3 separate regions of the Homo sapiens genome follow, and regions 2 and 3 are each linked to region 1. The links come from fine-mapping of genetic effects on gene expression. A gene starts in region 1. Each other region holds a variant in brackets. All regions are shown on one strand. Distances are from middle to middle. Region 1 holds the start of PIK3CG (phosphatidylinositol-4,5-bisphosphate 3-kinase catalytic subunit gamma). Region 2 has its middle 75 kb from the start of PIK3CG. Region 3 overlaps LINC02577 (long intergenic non-protein coding RNA 2577).

Region 1 (7,108 bases):
TCCTCGGAGGGCGGGTGCCGCTGCACCAGGTGGATCTGGCCCGGGCTCCGGTGCGTGGCCTTCCAGTAGCGCAGGCAGTCCAGAGTCTGCACCACCTGGTACTTGTCGTAGATCTCGTACCACTGCCCCTTCTTCTGATAGAGCAGGAGGAAGTGATGCGGTCCCAGCCGGTGGTAGAAGTCCGCCGCCACGCTGGTCTCCAGCGCTCGCAGCCACACCTGGGCCTTCATCTGCTCCACGTTGCCGTGGCCGGCCACGTGCAGCAGCGCCGTTTCGGGGCTCTTGCATTTGCGCTGGCTGGTGGGCAGCACGAACTCGATGGGGATGAGCTCCATGGAGGACAGGCTGGCCGCAGCACTGCGCGGCTTCATCCTCCGGCGCCTTCGGCAGTTGTCCTCTCTCAGCACCACGGGCTGTTTATAGTTCTCCAGCTCCATGCCCTATGCGACCTGGGAGCGGAGGGACACAGGGATTTGTCACAAGAAAGGCACTTTCCCCTTATATTTTCTGGTGAGATGAGGGAAGAGGAGGTATAGGCGGCGTACATGTGCACAGGGACCCAGAGGGACCAAGTATTTTAAACTGGAAGCACTACAGCCCTTCAGAGCGTGGGCTTTGGAGTCGGGCCGGTGAGTCCTGGCCCAGCCACTTACTTTCTGGGTGATTTGGGCTGCTTAATCTCTGAGCCTGTTTCTCATCTCTCAAACTGGTTAGTAATGAATGCCCCAGAGGGAGAGTTAAATAAAGTAATACTTGTTCAATATGGGTGACAGGTATATGGGGGCTTATTGGTCGTTCTACTTTTGTATACTTTGAAAATTTTAAAGAGGTAGGTAAAACACTCATCCAGCACAGCGCATGACACATTATAATGGCTCAGAATGGACATTGTTCTTAAACATACTGAAACATATAGATTACTAAAATAGTACAGTTAAGGTTCAAGTCCCAGTTTACAAGGTGCAACACGAGATGCCAAAAAATCTCACTTTGAAAACAGGCCTTTAACTTACTTCCTCTTTGTTAAGTCTCACACTTCTTGGAACCCAGACACCTCACCCAGCCTTGCTTCACGTTGCCTGTTTTCAAACTGCCTGGACCTAGGATCTACTCCCTAATAAATTTCCTGCCTCTTGGTTTCATTTTTTCTTTCTAATTAGGAAAGCAAGTCATTTCATTTGTAAAGCTAAAACATATCGGAATTAGTAAAGTTACAGTCAAAACCATTTGCAGATATGTAAAATTTTGAATCATGGAATTTGTCAGCATTCTGGCTGTCACTGCTATATTAGGGCAGTATCTTAGAAGAGTCACCCAAGGCTGTACTCTCCCAATAGGAACATTTAGGTAATTTTAACATTGTTTAATTAATTAATTAAAATTCATTTGATCTGTCTCTACTTAATAATGGAGGAGCTACAGGATGGAAGGCAGGATTTCTGGACTCCAGTGACCTTCTGTTAAGACCCCCAATCATTTAACTTCTTTTTTGCTCTAATATTTTCATTTTTGTAACACAAATTCACAAATTTATTCTCATTAACCTACTCACTCTTTCCACAAAATTCAGTAAGTACCTACCCTTCACAAAGCACTTATGTATAAATAGGACATACTGCAATAGGAAATCCTTCAAATAATAATTGAAATTTGAAAGGTATTAACACTGAAAGATTAGGTATTTTGCTTTCAATGTTTAGTATCACTACATTGTAATACATTATATTCTAAACGAATCAATTATTGAAACAAAAAATTAATGTTTCAGAAAATATCGTTTACTCTCTTAAATAACTAATGTTAGACTTAAAACTACATTATTTCCTTAAGAAATAGTGGAGCATTTGATGTATACCAAAAAGGAGAGCTTGATAAGAAGATAAGAAAGACAAATTTCATTTGATCCAAACTTATGTTCAAATCTTGGCTTAACTTTTAAAACCAATATTCCCTCTCTTAAAATATGAAGTTATACTTAGTAAGTGAAACCAACTGTCCCAAAGAACTGTCTCTTGTGGCTTAAAACATTCATTTTGGTCTTTTGCTACATTATAGAATAACTAACAAAGAAGAGAACTGTAAGATACATTGATATTGACACTAACTTGAAATAAAACATGTCCAAATTTAGGCAGCATATAAATACACAGCAATAACTTCTGCCTCAGTGATACCAAACGATCTTATAAGATGCAGAGGAAAACAGGCTGACTAATACTCACTGGTTTCCTTCATGGTTGAGGCTATGAAGCTTTCCCCTTTTATGAGAAGATGTTGGAAACACTGTAAGTACAGTAATCTTGAAGCATGCACTTGTAGGAATATGAAGCCTGGCTGCCGTGCCCTCCCTTTTCCTCCCAAAACAAAAACAAAAATGTGATGCACCTGCAAAACTATTGCCGGAACGTTGTAGATATCCACAATACAGGTTGGACTAGACAATGAAACACAGACATTCGGTGGTAGTATCATCTCAAGAACCGACAACAGTTTCAGATAATCTAGCCGAGAAGGAAGTGCCACTATTCCGAGTCAGACCCCACAAAGAGCAAAAAATAGAAGGAAGCAATACCTGATAAAGCAGCGGAGGCGATGATGCTGAAGGATCATTTGTTTAATTTTTGAAAACAAAACAAATTCAAACCTACCCAGTGTGCGTCTAAATTCTTCCGCTTTTCTGGGGCTCCCTTCATATCCAGATGCAGAGGAAGTGTTGCAGTTACCAGGAAGGAAGTTTTAACCAAGTTGATTATACGTGTGATTGCTCATTTTAAAAGTGTCAGAAATGCATTTCCTGTTTTAGCATAGAGAGGGTAGGAGTATGAGACTGAGCAATGTTTACCATGGTTTTTCTTTTCTTTTTTTTTTCTCTTTGAACTAATTTTTCAAAAATTGTGATACTGAGACAAAATGACATAAATCCAAACCAAAATTACCCATTATGAGACATAAACATATGAAATATCTTTGTAGCTAGTTCTAAGAGCCACAGTATTAGGTATCCTATTAGGAAGACTTTTACCAGTCAAATTAAACTCATTCCCCTCCTGGGAATTCAAAAGAATCCTTGTTCGCACATGCTAACTGAGGGGTGGGGGAAGAGAAACCTAGTCATCTTGAGGACTAAGTTATCAAGCTGAAAATTTTTAAAGGCATGGTCTGCAAGCTCACTTCCTTAGCTTGGTGAGAGCTTTCTCTATTTTTTCAGAGCATTTGGGGCCTAAAATATCACTGGCTCAAACTGAAAGCACTGCAGCATGTGCATGTGTGTATATAAATGTGACATACTGCAGTAAGTAACCCTTCAAATAATGGTTGAAATGCTAAAAGTATTAAAATTGAAAGATGAATAAAAAGGTATTTTGATTTTAATACTAAGTACCACTACATTGTAACACATTATATTCCAAACAAGGATCAACTATTGAAACAAAAATTAATGCTTCAGAAAATATCCTGTGTTGAGGATGGAGCCTTACTGTCAGCAATGACTGATTAATTAACTGTAGACAAAACAGAAGGAGGTTGCCTGTTATCATGGGGAAATTGGGGAGCTGAACACTGTTACAGCATCAGGCAGATTCCATCCTGGGAGGTGGCCCCTGATTCCTATGGGAGTAGAGAATGCATAGAAAAGCCATCCTGAATCATTTTTAGAGTAGCGTTGTATCTTCCAGGTGACCTCAGTTCTTTCTAGAACCTCCAAGCATCCTGAACCAGCGCCCCCTCCCTCCATCTCAGAATTCCCTATGCTAGAGTTCATCCTCCAATCGGGGTGTTGAGGGACTCCAGCTGAGCTTCAAGGGCAGCAGATAGAATGGAGTTGACCTCACAAGTCTCTTGGAGGTATGTAATTAAGAGTTCCTCTGAATTACTCTGATATTGAGATAAATGATTGATTTGACTTATTTCCTTTTACATATGCCTCTTGGGTTTTAACTTTTAAATAGCACTCTAATAGTTGACATCAGCAGGCAAATAATTTAATTCAAAGGCTGCCTCCCAAATATTTAGAGGGGTCTTATCAGCTTCTCAAAGTATATTCCTATATAGGAATACTCCCTTAGGAGGCTGGCAGCTTTAGAAGCACCAAGGCTAGCTTTCTTGGTTGGTCCTGAGGGAAGATCAACACACTGTAGCCACCAAGCCATGATGTGAGAGCTTGCCAAGCTGTGTTTTACCCAGAGTGTGTGGGAGGGTTCCTGGGGGTGGGTGGAGTGGGAGGAGGTTTGAGGGTGGGAGGGCTGACCTCAGAGGGACCATGAGCTTGGCCAGCCCTGTTCCCCAGACCATTCAATAGATCCCTTCCCTGTCCTGGCTCAGTCACTTCCAGGGGGCCAAGTCCCAATCTGGCACTGCACATACACACACACATGCCACATTATTCCAGAAACACGAGACTCAGCCTCTTGGCCCTGCCTGCTTCTGAAGGAACTATTAAGCTAAGTTTGATTAGGCAAAGGATTTTCTGTTTTATGACTAAACTGGCAAATATGTCAGGTTTATTGGTGGCTTGAGATTAAAAGTACCCTGCTCTTCCCCAAATCTTAATATAGCCACTAAAATTTGACTATCTGTAGTAAATGTTCCCAGTAAGAAGTAATGGCAAAGATTTCCTTCCTCTGTGGATACTTCCTCCGTGTAGAGGCATCCTTTACGAGTAAGAATATTTTATATCCCCAGAATATTTAGAAGACCTTCAGTCCTCATTAATATCCCATTTTAATAATATTTTTCCCTTCTGTGAATCTGTGGACACAGAAATCATTTTGGTTGGGAAAAAAAACACAATCAAAGGCTCTGACCTTCTATATCATATCAGTGGTCACAGCAATGACAAGATAGAACAGTTTAGAAAATAAGAACACAGTAGGAAGTATCAGTGATCAATAGACATTAAAAATTATTTGTTTTGAGGAAGGCTCTTTCCAACAGCCTTCAGAGAGATTATTTATGGTCTACTTGGAGAGACAGAACATGCAGAGGAAAGAATAACATGTGCAATGCGTTAGCATATGCAGTCCAAGCGGTTTAATTGTGTGATGTAACTTTCATTATGCAAGCCAACAGTTTACTGGAGGAGTTCACTTTGGGTGAGATTTGAAAATTTTTGTTTTAAATGTGCAGGGGAAGGTCCAGGATTCAAGGCAAGAGGAATCACAGGGGCAAGTCCTCAAGCCAGAAGGCATCTGTGGGACAGTGAACAGATCAGTTCACTGAAATGGAGAGTCTGAGAAAGATAGCAGTGTGAGAGACAGGGAGAGACATGGCCAGACAAGTGTGTGCTTCCCATACGTATTTCATGTGTTGCCACATGTAAATAGTGGTGACATGTGTATGGCACACTGGGGTGAACTGAGGAAGCTCCTCAAAGCGTGAGACAACGGGTGCATCCCCAAGGACCTCACCGCTTTGGGCATACTGGCTGGGAACTCTGTTATTGGTTATTTACTGTTGGAGTAGCTATGTCACTCAGACTCGAGGGAATCTTTCATCTTGAAAAAACATGATCATCTTGTCATATTTTTTTTTAGCTCAGCTTCAGATGATTTATACATTGTGATAAAAATGCAAAAAGGCATTTTAATCTAATCTGACAGTTTAGTTCACCTTCATACCTTGCTTTGTTGTCCGAGCACAAAGGCAAACCTTTATGAAGCTGTGCCTGATATTTTTTGGTCTGTATTTGGTAAGATTTAAGAGAAGCATCCTGGTATTGTAGAAACACACACATTCATGAGACCTAGGTTTATTTCTGCACATTCTTTAGGCCTCATATATGCCCCTTCATTTCTTTTGGCTTCCTAATCTACCAAATGATAACAACCACCCTACATATTTCACAGGAAGTTGTTATAAATCTTCAGTTTTCAATGGAACAAAAACTTATCTCACCGTACTATGTAAGATATTATGTTAGATGACTCTAGAAGGTACAGAATTCCAGGTGTCAAACACCAACACGACACACAGAGGAAGAAGAGTCCATGCCATCTTGTGTGTTTCTTTTTCAGAGAGAGGAAGACTTTCCCAAAGGTCTTCTGGGTCCCCTTATGTCTCTGGCCAGAATTGTGGCAAGGGCGCATTGATACCTCAGCCAATCAATAGGAAAGGGGATAGAATTATGTGAATGGTTTAAGCTAATCAGAATTTGTCCCCTGAGTTCTGGCTGGCTAGAGAGTGGTGGACACCAGAACCAAATGTCAGGGCTCTGACTGTAAGGACAAATGGGATTAGGGAGGATTGTAGGAGACTGTACCACAGTCTTGATGCCATTAGGAATGTAGGCTATTATTATGCCATGTGGGTGGAGGGGAGCCACTTCAGGTTCTGAGAAAAGAAGCTATGGGAAATCAGTCACAGTCAACACAACTCCATGGACCTACAGCCAGATCTAGGTCCCTATGGGACCTTCCACTTTGTTCTCCATTCTTAGTATCAGAAACTGACCATTGAGCACATTTTTCTGTTTCCTTGTTTAGTTAAACTTTGACAATACATAGTAGTAAGCACTTCACAAATTTCTGGAAAAGATTTTTCTATAAATTGGTTTTTAAAAATCCAAAATCTTTGCGTGATACTTTATTTTTATTTTATTTTTTATTTTTGAGACAGAGTCTAGCTCTGTCTCCCAGGCTGGAGTGCGGTGGTGTGATCTCAACTCACTGTAACCTCCACTTGCCAGGTTCAAGTGATTCTCCTGCCTCAGCCTCCCGAGTAGCTGGGATTATAGGCATGCGCCACCATGCCCAACTAATTTTTGTATTTTTAGTATAGACTGGGTTTCACCACATTGGCCAGCCTGGTCTTGAACTTCTGACCTCAAGTTATCCACCTGCCACAGCCTCCAAAAGTGCTGAGATTACAGGTGTGAGCCACCACACCTGGCCTGCATAATACTTTAGACCTTTTATGATTTATCCCTTATGAACTATCCTTAACTCTTTCTTCCAGATTCTCCTCTTCCAATTCCCTTCCATGATTGAATTCCACCAATTTCTGCTTTCATACCTTCTGTGTTCCACCACACCTCTGTGCCTCTGTGTGCCACTCCCTATGTCCTATTCCCTCCCCTCATTCTCTCTCCTCTCCCTCCCCCTTCTCTCAT
Region 2 (7,108 bases), 75 kb before region 1:
AGCACTTTGGGAGGCTGAGGTGGGTGGATCACCTGAGGTCAGCAGTTTGAGGCCAGCCTGGTCAACATGATGAAACCCTGCCTCTACAAAAAATACAAAAATTAGCCGGGCATGGTGACAGATGCCTGTAATCCCAGCTACTCAGAGGCTGAGACAGGAGAATTGCTTGAACCTGGGAGATGGAGGCTGCAATGAGCCAAGATCGTGCCACTGCACTCCAGCCTGGGCAACAGAGCGAGACTCCATCTCCAAAAAGAAAAACAAAACAACAACAAAAAACAACTTTGTACATAGTCATGCATTTTTGACTAAGTATCTACAAATAAAATTGTTAGGTAAAAGGGAATGTACCTTCCTAATTGAAAATACATGATCAGACCGATGATGGTGGCTCACACCTGTAATCCCAGCACTTTGGGAGGCCAAGGCAGGAGGATTGCTTGAGGCCAGGAAATTAGACCAGCCTGAGCCTGAACAACACTGCAAGATCCCATCTCTACAGGAACATTTTTTAAAAATTAATTGGGAATGGTGGTGCATGCCTGTAGTCCTAGCTACTTGGTTGAGGTGGAATATCACTTGAGCCCATGAGTTTGAGGCAGCCATGAGCTATGATTGCATCACTGCATTGTAGCTCTGTATAAGAGACAGAATACTACCCTGTCTCTTAAAAAAAAATGTGGGATAGGGGCTGGGCGCGGTGGCTCACGCCTGTAATCCCAGCACTTTGGGAGTCCGAGGCAGGTGGATCACGAAGTCAGGAGATTGAGACTATCCTGGCTAACATGGTGAAACCCCATCTCTACTAAAAATACAAAAAATTAGCCAGGCAAGGTGGCGGGTGCCTGTAGTCCCAGCTACTGGGCTACTGGGGAGGCTGAGCCAGGAGAATGGTGTGAACCCAGGAGGCGGAGCTTGCAGTGAGCTGAGATTGTGCCACTGCACTCCAGCCTGGGCAACAGAGCAAGACTCTATCTCAAAAAAAAAAAAAATGTGGGCCAGGCGTGGTGGCTCATGCCTGTAATCCCAGCACTTTGGGAGGCCGAGGCAGGTGGATCACGAGGTCAGGAGATGGAGACCATCCTGATTGACGTGGTGAAACCCCATCTCTACTAATAATACAAAAATTAGCTGGGTGTGGTGGTGGGCACCTGTAGTCCCAGCTACTCTGGAGGCTGAGGCATGAGAATCGCTTGAACCCAGGAGGCGGAGGTTGCAGTGAGCTGAGATCATACCACTGCACTCCAGCCTGGCAACAGAGCAAGACTCTATCTTAAAAAAAAAAAAAAGTATACGAACACACACATAAATGTGTACACACATACACATATATATGGATTTGTATATATATGTATATATAACCAAATTGCCACTGCACCAATCTATGTTCCCACCTACAGTAAATCAAACTGTTTATCCCATATCCTCAGCAACATTGATGATTGTGATTTAAGTGTTAGTTAATCTGGTAGTTGAAAAGTGATATTTAATTGTTCTTTAAAATTTACATTTATTTAATAGTAAAGAAATAGAATATTTCTCATATTTGTTAGTCATTTATATGTCTTTTTTCCATTTTTCTCGTTGAAGGGTCAAGTCTTTTCTTACTGATTTTTTTTTTTTTTTTTTTTTTGAGACGGAGTCTTGTTTTGTCGCCCAGGCTGGAGTGCAGTGGTGCAATTTCGGCTCACTCTAACCTCTGCCTCCTGGGTTCACGTGATTCTCCTGCCTCAGCCTCCTGAGCAGCTGGGATTACAGGCGTGCACCACCACCGTGCCCAGCTAATTTTTTGTATTTTTAGTAGAGACAGCATTTTACCATGTTGGCCAGGCTGGTCTCAAACTCCTGACCTCAGGTGATCCACCCATCTCAGCCTCCCAAACTGCTGGGATTACCAGTGTGAGCCACCACGCCCGGCCACTTACTTTTTTTTTTTTTTTTTTTAGACAGAGGCTCACTCTGTTGCCCAGGCTGGAGTGCAGTGGTATGATCTCGGCTCACTGCAACCTCTGCCTCCTAGGTTCAAGCGATTTTCATGCGTCAGCCTCCTGAGTAGCTGGGATTACAGACACCTGCCACCACGCCTGGCTAATTTTTTGTATTTTTAGTAGAGAAGGGGTTTCACCATCTTGGCTAGGCTGGTCTTGAGCTCCTGACCTTGTGATCCACCTGCCTCAGCCTCCCAAAGTGCTGGGATTACAGGCGTGAGCCACTGCGCCTGACCTTCCACTTACTATTTTTAATTGCTGTTTGTATTTTATGTAAATTAGTCCCTAGACTTTAATTTGTGTTGCAAATATTTCCCCCTGTTTGCTAACTAAAAAATATTTAAAAGGGTCATTAGATTTTCTGGACAGTCAAACTGATCAGTGAGCTATATCTAGTTGGCCTATCAAAGACTAAACTTTCAGGGTTAATAAAAAGTGGGGGCCAGATGCAGTAGCTCATGCCTGTAATACCAGCACTTTGGGAGGCTGAGGTGGGCAAATCACTTGAGTTCCGGAGTTTGAGACCAGCCTGGGCAACATGATGAAACCTATCTCTACAAAAAATAAAAAAAATTAGCTGGGTGTAGTGGCTTGTACCTGTAGTTCTAGCTACTTGGGAGGCCAAGGTGAGAGGATCTCCTGAGCCCAGGAGGTTGAGGCTGCAGTAAACCGTGATTGTGCCACTGCACTCCAGTCTGGGCAATACAGTGAGACCCTGTCTCAAAAAAAAAAAAAAAGTAAAATGAGTATGATGTTAGGGTAAGTAGCTGAAGCTTTAGAGGAAAGTGGGAAAATATAATGGATCTGACGTTGTTGAAAATAGATGGCATTCACAGCTAGAGGATTAAGGCATTTATTTAGAATAATATACAATTGTGTTCTACAAGAAAATGTTTTTCTGTAATTGACACAGAGAAACCTCATTGTTTGCCTTAAGAGAACACTTCATTAATCCTGTGGTGCAGAAAGGAAGTTGGAATCTTGCATTTATCTGTGAGTGTCTCAACTCTTTATGTATAACATTGGTGGATTTTAGGGTGTTGATATTACGTGTGTTTTTGGGAGAGGTATTTAAAGAAAAATCCAACTGTTGAGGGAATCTAAAAACACCCAGATTTTTTTTTTTTTTTTTTTTTTTGAGACGGAGTCTCACTCTGTTGTCTAGGCTGGAGTGTAGTGGCGCGATCTAGGCTCACTGCAAGCTCCACCTCCCGGGTTCACGCCATTCTCTTGCCTCAGCCTCCCAAGTAGCTGGGACTACAGGTGCCCACCACCACACCCGGCTAATTTTTTGTAATTTTAGTAGAGACGGGGTTTCACTGTGTTAGCCAGGATGGTCTTGATCTCTTGACCTCGTGATCTACCCGCCTTGGCCTCCCAAAGTGGCTGGGATTACAGGCGTGAGCCACCGTGCCCGGCCAAAACACCCAGATGTTTTAAGATCATAAAGAATTAAATAATTTTCCAAGAGACTCTCTGGTGTATTTTCCAAGCTTCCTCTGCTTTTCTGGCTTTTCATTGTTCTTTCTTTTGGAGGACACAAATCTCCATTGAAAAGA[C/T]ATTTAGGGCTTCAATATTGTTTTAACTGGGTCAGTGAACAGGAAGAAATGATCTGTAACAGTGAGTAGAAGACCTCGTATAGGGATGATTGCTTGATAATTGCATTTTGTTCAAATTCTTAGGAGCTACTGGGAATATTAAAAATGAAAAAAAGCTTTGGGAAATCATCAACTAAATACCAGTGCTAATGGAGGATATTTGTCACAGACTGTGATATAGCAAAGTTATTTGTAGCCCGGCGTGGTAGCTCACACCTGTAATCCCGGCACTCTGGGAGACTGAGGTGGGCAGGTTGCTTGAGCCCAGTAGTTTAAGACCAACCTGGACAACATGGCGAAACCCTATTTCTACAAAAGTACCAAAAATTAGCTGGGCCTGGTGACGTGTGCCTGTAGTCCCAGCTACTTGGGAGGCTGAGGTGGAAGGATTGCTTGAGCCCAGGAAGTCAAGGCTGCAGTGAGCCACGATAGCAGCACCGCACCATGGCACTCCAGCCTGGGTGACAGAGTGAGACTCTAAAACAAACAAACAGATAAACAACCCAATCAACAAACCAATCAGCCAAACAAACAAAAACACCAAAAAACAAAGTCATTTGTGCCCTTTATCCGCTCATTAGACTAAGATCTTTGGGAGCTGTATCTGAATCACTTCTTAATCCCCACAGTACTGCATATAATATTCAGTAATCATTGTGCCCAAATGAAATTTCATTTAAAAACACAAATTTCACCATCTTAAGGAAACTAGAATCCCGTCAGCATGGAAATATGAAAAAAGCGCAAATTAAATATAAGTGGGGAAAAGCCTATCTTAGTGTGCTGAGCTCTTATTGCATTAAAATAATTCAATTATTCCATTTTCCATTATTGAACTTTTCTAGATAGAGTGATATCTCAGCCAGAACATCCTAGAAGAGCTTTCGAGACAATCTAATCAAAAGTTCGGCCTGAGAGCAGGCTACCATCTAAATATGCTGGGTAGAAGAGAGAAAAACTGATAGAACCCCGATCTAAATTTAAATTTTAAAATTTAAAATCACATATTAGTGTTTCTCCTCCAGTCTGCTCTTCTTTCTATCTTCCTAGAGAGCTTCTCTTACCCAGGGAAAGCTATCTTTGTAGCCCTTTTCTTCACACCCTCCAGTGACTGGTTTCAGATTTTTAGAAGGCTGTGGTATTTATTTATTTACTATACTTTAAGTTCTAGGGTACATGTGTACAACATGCAGGTTTGTTACATATGTACACACGTGCCATGTTGGTGTGCTGCACCCATTAACTCGTCATTTACATTAGGTGTATATCCTAATGCTATCCCTCCCCACTCCCCCGACCCCATGACAGACCCCGGTGTGTGATGTTCCCCTTCCTGTGTCCAAGTGTTCTCATTGTTCAATTCTCACCTATGAGTGAGAACATGCGGTGTTTGGTTTTTTGTCCTTGCGATAGTTTACTGAGAATGATGGTTTCCAGCTTCATCCGTGTCCCTACAAAGGACATGATGAACTCATCCTTTTTTATGGCTGCATAGTATTTCATGGTATATATGTGCACATATTCTTAACCCAGTCTATCATCGATGAACATTTGGGTTGGTTCCAAGTCTTTGCTATTGTGAATAGTGCTGCAATAAACATACGTGGTCATGTGTCTTTATAGCAGCATGATTTATAATCCTTTGGGTATACACCCAGTAATGGGATGGCTGGGTCAAATGGTATTTCTAGTTCCAGATCCTTGAGGAATTGCCACACTGTCTTCCACAATGGTTGAACTAGCTTACAGTCCCACCAACAGTGTAAAAGTGTTCCTCTTTCTCCACATCCTCTCCAGCACCTGTTGTTTCCTGACTTTTTAATGATCGCCATTCTAACTGGTGTGAGATGGTATCTCATTGTGGTTTTGATTTGCATTTCTCTGATGGCTAGTGATGATGAGCATTTCTTCATGTGTCTGTTGGCTGCATAAATGTCTTCTTTTGAGAAGCGTCTGTTCATATCCTTCGCCCAGTTTTTGATGGGGTTGTTTGATTTTTTTCTTGTAAATTTGTTTAAGTTCTTTGTAGATTCTGGATATTAGCCCTTTGTCAGATGGAAAGATTGCAAAAATTTTCTCCCAATCTATAGGTTGCCTGTTCACTCTGCTGGTAGTTTCTTTTGCTGTGCAGAAGCTCTTTAGCTTAATTAAATTCCATTTGTCAATTTTGGCTTTTGTTGCCATTGCTTTTGGTGTTTTAGACATGAAGTCCTTACCCATGCCTATGTCCTGAATGGTAATAGCTAGGTTTTCTTCTAGGGTTTTTATGGTTTTAGGTCTAACATGTAAGTCTTTAATCCATCTTGAATTAATTTTTGTATAAGGGGTAAAGAAGGGGTCTAGTTTCAGTTTTCTACATATGGCTAGCCAGTTATCCCAGCATCATTTATTAAATAGGGAATCCTTTCCCCATTGCTTGTTTTTGTCAGGTTTGTCAAAGATCAGATGGTTGTAGATGTGTGGTATTATTTCTGAGGGCTCTGTTCTGTTCCATTGGTCTATATCTCTGTTTTGGTACCAGTACCATGCTGTTTTGGTTACTGTAGGAAAGCTGTGGTATTTAAAGGCTGGCTGCAGTGACTCATGCCTGTAATCCCAGCACTCTGGGAGGCCAAGGTGGGCGGATCACGAGGTCAAGAGATTGAGACCATCCTGGCCAACATGGTGAAACCCCATCTCTACTAAAAATACAAAAATTAGATGGGCGTGGTGGTGGGCTCCTGTAGTCCCAGCTACTCGGGAGGCTGGGGCAGGAGAATCCTTGAACTGGGGAGGCGGAGGTTGCAGTGAGCTGAGATCACGCCACTGCACACCAGCCTGGCGACAGAGTGAGACTCTGTCTCAAAAAAAAAAAAAAGTCTGTGGTATTTAAAAATATGCTGGTACCAAAGTGCTAAAGGCATCAGTCAAAAAGAAGTTAATGCCTTCAATTTAAGGCACATAAAAGCACCCGTGGACAGAAGAAAAAGACCTTTTGGGTTTGGCAATATTGTAAAATAGTAATCAATATCATACTTTTTTTTTTGAGATAGAGTCCTGCTCTGTCATCCAGGCTGGAGTGCAGTGGCATGATCTTGGCTCACTGCAACCTCCACCTCCCAGGTTCAAGCAGTTCTCCTGTCTCAGCCTCCTGAATAGCCAGGGCTACAGGTGTGCATCACCATACCTGGTTAGTGTTTGTATTTTTAGTAGAGACAGAGTTTCACCATGTTGGCCAAGCTGGTCTCGAACTCCTGACGTCAGTTGATCCACCCACCTTGGCCTCTCAAAGTGCTGGGATTACAGGTGTGAACCACCGCATCCCATCCGGCCTATCATACCATTTTTGAAAAAGATGCTGTTGATATTGAGCAATACCTTTCTCTTTCTATATGAACATAGTTACCACACAGTAGCCCGTGAAATTGATAGGATCAGGTGATTTCATTTTAGAAATCACAGTAGGGAGAGATGAAAGCACGGAGAAATTAATTCATTTGTATAGCATCACTTTTGTCCTAAATTAAGATGTGAGACTGAATC
Region 3 (7,108 bases), 35 kb after region 1:
GTGCATGATTGGTCACCAAGGTAGGAGTAGAGGTATCCCATACTTGTGGATTAAGTTGGGGAGATACCAGGGGAGGATGTGAAAGAGTTGGGTAAAAGTGCAGCAATGAGATGTGGCTGTAGCCCAGGAATAGTCAGGGAAGCAGATAATTTGGTGAAAATGTCTCTGCCTAATAAGGGAATTGGGCAGGTGGGGATAACTAAAAAAGAGTGCATAAAAGAATGTCGTCCAAGTTGGCACCAGAGTGGGGGAGTTTTAAGGGGTTTTGAAGCTTGGCCGTCAATACCCACAACAGTTATGAGGGCAAGAGAAACGGGCCCTTGAAAAGAAGGTAATGTGGAGTGGGTAGACCCCGTATCTATTAAACAGGGGATGGACTTACCCTCCACTGTAGGAGTTATCCGAAGCTCGGCATCCGTGATGGTCCAGGGGGCTTCCGAGATGATTTGGCAGCGTCAGTCTTTAGCCACTAAGCCGAGGAGATCTGGGAAGGAATCAGCCAGGAGCCTTAGCTTTTTGCTCCAGTAGGTCTAGGAGCAGCTGTAATCCAAGTTGGATGGTCCGACTTCCAGTGGGGTCCTGCACAGACAGGACAAGGCTTAGGAGGAATCCCGGGCTGTGGGCATTCCGAGGCCCAGTGGCCAGGCTTCTGGCATTTGAAGCAAGGTCCACAAGGAGGTTTTGAAGGAGTGCCTGGAGGTTGCGGTTTTGTTGTTCTGAGGTTTTTGTGTACCATGGGTGTGGCTGGGATTTTTCTTATGGTGGAGGCAAGCAGTTGCAGCTTTGAAATATGTTGTCGCTTGGCTGCCTCTTCTCTGTTGTTAATCACCTTGAAGGTGAGGTTAATTAAATGTTGTTCTGGGGTTTGAGGGCCGGAATCTAGTTTTTGGAGTTTTTTCCTAATGTCTGGGTCCAGGACTGTAAAGTGTCTAAGGGTAGCCCCCAAGCGGGCCATGAACTGAGCTGGGTTCTTGTCCTTACCTTGGGTGGTTTCTTTAAGTTTTTCATAATTAACAGCTTTGTATGCTGCCTTTTTGAGCCCCTCAACTAGGCAAGAGACCATGTAATCTCGCCTAGCTATATCTTGGGAGCCTGTTTGGTATCCCCACTGGGGACCCTCCTGGGGAACTGCCCTGGTGCCTTCTTGGAGGCCTGGCTCATGATGCCGGCAGTCGTCAGCGTGAGATTGGCCTAGGTTATAAACTCTCTCTCACTCATCTGGGGAGAGGGTAGAAGTCAGGATGACATTTAAGTCACTCTAGATTAAATTGTAGGACTGAGTTAAATATTGGAATTCCTGTATATATTTAGTGGGGTCTGATGAGAAAGAGCCTAAATGCTGACTGATCTGGAAGAGGTCCGAAAAAGGCACATGTACCCTGACTATGCCTTCAGCTCCAGCCACCTCTCTAAGAGGAAATTGTTGGTCAGGTGGAAGAGAGCTAGTCACGGAACGAAACTGTAAGCCAGACCAGGTGTGAGGAGAGGAGGTAATAGAAGGGTTATAGTGTGGGGGAGTGGAGGCTGTGGAAGAATTGGGACATGATTCAGCCCGGCGAGGAGCGGCCGGGGGAGGAGGAGAGAGGTCAGAGGGGTCAGTGGAAAAGGAGGATTCAGAGGACTCTGAGCTTGGGGTGGAGACCGAAGGAGTGGACGGGAGAGAAAGAAGGAAAATCTGGGATAAGTCACATTGGGAGCAGAGACTAGGGAGAGAGCAAAGTGTAAAAAAGGCCTGGACGTAAGGCACCTCAGACCATTTGCCTAATTTTTGACAAAAATTATCTAGGTCTTGTAGGATAGACAAATAAAAATTACCATCCTCTGACCACTTGGAACTATTGTCAAGTTTGTATTGGGGCCCAGCGGTATTACAGAAGAATATAAGATGTTTAGGTTTTAGGTCAGGTGTTAGTTGAAGGGGTTTTAGGTTTTTAAGAACACAGGCTAAGGGGGAAGAGGGAGGAATGGATGGCAGAAGCTTGCCCATAGTGGGGAAGGTAAGTTTAAAGAGGAAGGTAGAGACACGGAGAAATGGAGGTAGGCAGCTGCCAGGCTTCTAGTAGGCATCCCTGACTGAGTCCTCGGCTGTAATGTGGGTGAGCAGCCAAAGCAGGTGTCCCTGCAATTGACCTGCCACCAATGGAGTGTGGGTGAATGATCAAGGCAGGCGTCCCCGCTATGATCAGACACCAAGGGAAGACTGTCTTCCCAAATCCATGACCGACATCGGAATTTTTGAGTTCGTGGATAAAATGTGTCTCCTTTGCCTCTACTAGAGAGGAAAGAGAACTGGAGTTGGAAGGATAGGGAGATTGAAGGGTAGCAAGAGAGGCTGGAGAAGAGAGTGAAGAGGTCACTTACCCAATTTGAAATTGGTGAGATGTTCCTTGGGCTGGTCTGAGGACCCGAGGTCGTAGGTGGATCTCCTCCCGGACTGAGGGTGAGGACAGGGGGCTGGTCTTCTGAAGGAGTCCCCTGTCTTGGGTTTCAGCACCAAATGTTACATGCGTCTGTGTGAGGAGACCACCAAACAGGCTTTGTGTGAGCAACGAGGCTCTTTATTCACTTGGGTGCAGGTGGGCTGAGTCCGAAAAAGGAGTCAGCAAAGGGAGATAGGGGTGGGGCAGTTCTATAGGATTTGGGTAGGTAGTGGAAAATTACAGTTAAAGGTGGTTATCTCTTATGGGCAGGGGCGGGGGTCTCAAGGGGCAGGGTGGGGAGATCATGAGACACATTGTCCAGGGGAGGAATGTCACGAGGTCGATTGATTAGTTAGGGTGGGGCAGGAACAAATCACAATGGTGGAATGTCATCAGTTAAGGCAGGAACTGACTGTTTCACTTCTTTTGTGGTTCTCCAGTTGCTCCAGACCATCTGGATGTATACATGCAAGTCACAGGGGTTGTGATGGCTTAGCTTGGGCTCAGAGGCCTGACAGTTTTAGAGCAGGAGAAAAAGTTTAGTAAAAAGTTTTAGAGCAGGAACGAAAGTAAAGTACAATTGGAAGAGGGCCATGCGGGCGACTTGAGAGATTCAAGTGCGCAGTTTGACCTTTGACTTGGGGTTTTATACCTTGGCATGCTTTGGTTGGGGGTGAGTGGGTGTTGCATCCCTTCTTTCCCTGATTCTTCCCTTGGGGTGGGCTGTCCGCATGTGCAGTGTTCTGCTAGCACTTGGGAGGGGCTGCAGGCCCAGTGTGTTTACTGAAATTGTGCACATGCTCACTTGTGGCGTTTTTCCCTTACCATTCAAATGCTTTTAGAGGGAGGTTATATACCAGTTGAACTCTGTCCTTTTGCCCATTAATGTGCATGCTTGAGCCCATATACCCGACTCCTGAGATCTTATTGGGAAGCTGCGGATCACCAGTTTCAGGTGTTTTTATCTATTGGGGGATTATCTTTCCTTGGTGCTGCTTATGTCTGACTACCTACTGTAACAATATCAAATCTGAAACTACATCAATGAACTTTCATAATCTGTTATATTAAAATTGATTGGTCTGTCTTGCACTTTGAATGGATTTTTTTATTCATGCATGATTTTGTAACATCATGCAATGGTCATTTAGAAAATATGGGTCCACTGAGTTATGCCAATTTTCCAAATGTTGACACATTTTATTATACAATATCCCAAAAAAATCACATTTCTTACTATCACCATCGATCTCATCAGAAGAATCTTGAAGTATTGGGAAGGTATCAAGTTCACAGTGACACAAGGTTTTTTAAGATTCGATTTTTGCTTGGAAGTATAATATTAATTACAAAAATGCTTCTTTTCAAGATAACGATAATACTTTGTTATGCAGCAGAAGTACTTTTTGCTTCATTAAGAATATTCTTATGAGAATTCAGCTTTTAAAAAATTGTGGTATGCAGTAGTAAGAATACAGTGATTACTAGTAAATTTGGTGCCACTGGCTTGATGTGTGCTAAGGCACCATCAATTATATCCATCAGTACTTTTTACCATCTATACAAATGTTAACACAGTGAAAAATACAAATAATACCTTGGTATTATTATGAAAACAGAATTTGTTGTTGTGGGCCCCCTGAAAGGGTTTTGGCACTCCCAGGAACTTTTAGACCACACGTTGAGAGCTGCTGTTCTATTACTCATGTAGAATAAAAACAAAAGTGAAATAAATTATTTAACATATTATTAAAATTTCTTTGCAGTCAGTGACTCCTTT[G/A]AAACATTTTTGGATTTAGGGTCAAAAATCCACACACTATTATATACCAATATTATACAAACTACTATTGCATATGTTGTGATTCTTCCATCTCTTAAAGCAATATCCAGTATCAAGTAGCAATGTGAAAATTGGTATCAGTTTCATGAATGTTATATCCAAACCTACAAATATATAATTTTGTAGTAATATGAATTGGTTAATATTGCTAAATATATATTCCTAAGGGGTCATATGGAACTATTGTGAATATCATATTAATTTGTGAGTACCCTAGAACCAAACTAATCCCTCTGGAATTGGAGTGCTAAGAGAAGCTTTGACATTATTGGGAAATGCTACTTAGTTAGCGTAAGAATCTGGGTGCATTCAAGCTGAGAAGAAAGATTTGAAAAATTAATTCATTTGTATTTTACTTAGATGTTTCCATCTGTCACATCTCCCCAGTCTCAAAGCAACAGCTCAGAAGTCAGCAGATACATCCCAGAAACCTTCAAGTCCTTCAGCTGGAATCAACTTTCATTTTGAGATCATAGGGCATACATAGTGCAAGACATGCAAAGAAGTGTTTTGCTGGGTCCTGAATGGTGTTAGTCATGAGAACAGATGTTTAGGATCACGGGTTATATTGTGATATTGTGTCAGTTCTGAACACCTGGTTCCCAGGAACAAAGGTGACCATGTGTTCTCTGATACATTTCTTTTCTAGTTTTGGTAACATTAGGGGCCTTTAAAGCATGGGGCCCAGCTTTTTGAAAGGAGAACAATAAAAAGTTAATTGATGTACAATGTTCTTTTATATAAGGATGAGGAAGCATTGGTATGTGTAGCATGGGGGATAATTAACCCAGAAGATAGAGGCACACTGAAGAAAACACACAATCTGATTCCAGTGCCAGCAGGTGAATACTACTGCCCAGGGGGTCCCAGAAATTGGTGGATCAGTCTTTGGACTGGTGCCTTTGTTTGGATTTATATGATGTTAGGGGACTCTGTTGACATCGACATTATTTACAGACATTATTAAATCTCCCCCGGCCACACACACTAAAAACACTATAAAACTTGGCATGGTAAAAGTAATCACCACAACTTATGAAAACTGCTTCCCATTTATGCATAATTACTATGCAGCAGAATGTTAAATAGACACGTCGCTGAAGGTGCCGAATTAGCTTTTCAGCAGTTTTGATAACACTAAACTCTGTTCACATACACACAACTAACATCATTTATTGCACATGTCCATGGTTGTCTGCATAAAATAGAGTATGTACTCTCTGTGACTATATTAAGTTCCCAATGTTTGTTTATCACCATAGATATTTTGCCACAAAATTTAGGACTAAGTGGTTGAGGATATATGTTTAGCTGTGGACCAAATCCATGATACCCTGGAAGTCCAATTGAGGCCCCTCAAGTGTAAAGGAACAGCCAGGGTGGAGTTACAGATGAGCTGAGGGATTTAGTAGAATAGTAAGATTTTATTATCTTGGGCGTTGCCAGCAAAAGTGACTATGGTGGCCATGGGTGTCCACCTAAGTCCACATAAGCAAAACCTGCTCTGTGAACAAAGTCTCTTGAGACTTAGACTCTAAAACCAGTTCATCAGAACTAATACCAGAGACAGCCATCCTGTGATGATGAAATTTTATTGTTATAGATAAGACCGTACAGGGCTTAACGAGAAATGCATGCAGATAAAAAGACACGACAGATTTTTAATGAGAATGCTTTTAATTAATATATTTTTTGGTGTTGAGGGTGACACAGGGAAGGATTTTACTAAAATAATAAGAGAGGGATGAAGTTGTGGAAACAAGACACTTGAGACTAGAAAGTGTAAAAATGGAGGACTTCACTTTTTCTCACTACAGCTAATTCCAGCTACTGCTTATAAAAGCTGTCATTCTTCATTTCTTTAAATGTTAATTATAATCATAAAGGCATTACTGGAAAATACCTTCTCCCTATATAGGTCCATATGGCAGGAAATGTTTCATAAGTGGTTGTCCTTTTTATTAGAGTTGATTTCAGAAAATTATTTTAACCTGTATTCAAAAATGCTGTCATTATCTGTTTCTATATCTGCCAGTGTATTTATTAGTCAGGGTTGTCCAGAGCAACAGAACCAATATGGTATAGCTATAGCTATAGATATAAGACAGGGAGTTACTGGGGGAATTGGCTCATGCTATTATAGAGGCTGAGAAGTCCCACTGCAGGCCACCTGCAAGCTGGTGGAGACCATGGAATGGTGATAGCATGGTTCAGTCCAAGTCCAAAAGTCCAGAAACCAGTGGTGTAATTTCCAGTCCAAGCCCAAAGTCCTAAGAACCCAGGAGGCCACTGGTGTAAGTCCTGGAATCCACAGGCTGAAGAACATGGAGTTCTAAAGTCTATGGGCAGAAGGAGAATATCCTAGCTCCAGGAGAGAAAGAGATTGAAAATCATCTTTCCTTTGCCGTTTTTTTTGTTGTTGTTCTATCCAGGTCCCCAGCTGATTGGATGGTGCCTGGCCACATCAAAGGTGGATCTTTCCCACTCACTCCACTGACTTACACACCAATCTCCTCTGGAAACACCTCATAGACACACCCAGAAATAAAGCTTTACCAGTTCGCCAGGTATTCCTGAATCCAGTCAAGTTGACACCTAAAATTAACTATCACAAGTCCACTGCTTGTCAACTTGGCACCCACACACGTCTCTGTAAACTGTACTTAGTCTCCAAATAAAGACAATAACAAGGTAATAGTCCTACCTAACCTGATACAATTATCCTGTGGCTCATGTTTGTAATCCCAGCACCTTGGGAAGGTGAGGCAGGCGGATCACCTGAGGTGGGGAGTTGGAGACCAGCCTGACCAACATGGAGAAACCCTGTTTCTACCAAAAATACAAAATT

Evidence for each region. PIP is the estimated chance that this variant, and not a neighbour inherited with it, causes the effect. A credible set is the group of variants that fine-mapping cannot tell apart.
Region 2: its variant is the best candidate, but not a certain one, in a credible set for the expression of PIK3CG in whole blood (TOPMed, PIP 0.77).
Region 3: its variant is the best candidate, but not a certain one, in a credible set for the expression of PIK3CG in whole blood (TOPMed, PIP 0.58).

The regions. Positions count from the first base shown.
Region 1 is chr7:106,860,891-106,867,998 of GRCh38, reverse strand. It overlaps PIK3CG (phosphatidylinositol-4,5-bisphosphate 3-kinase catalytic subunit gamma), which reads right to left and starts at 2,717. Exons shown (of 11, transcript NM_001282426.2): 1 at 2,573-2,717; 2 at 1-449. The coding sequence starts at 437. RefSeq lists an enhancer at 2,546-2,645 and a silencer at 5,141-5,435.
Region 2 is chr7:106,936,269-106,943,376 of GRCh38, reverse strand. No RefSeq gene overlaps it. Among named protein-coding and RNA genes, the nearest start is that of PIK3CG, 75 kb to the right of the region's middle. The variant C/T (reference allele first, on the strand shown) is at 3,548.
Region 3 is chr7:106,825,464-106,832,571 of GRCh38, reverse strand. It overlaps LINC02577 (long intergenic non-protein coding RNA 2577), which reads right to left. Exons shown (of 5, transcript NR_170304.1): 3 at 2,362-2,510; 4 at 383-579. Among named protein-coding and RNA genes, the nearest start is that of PIK3CG, 36 kb to the left of the region's middle. The variant G/A (reference allele first, on the strand shown) is at 4,201.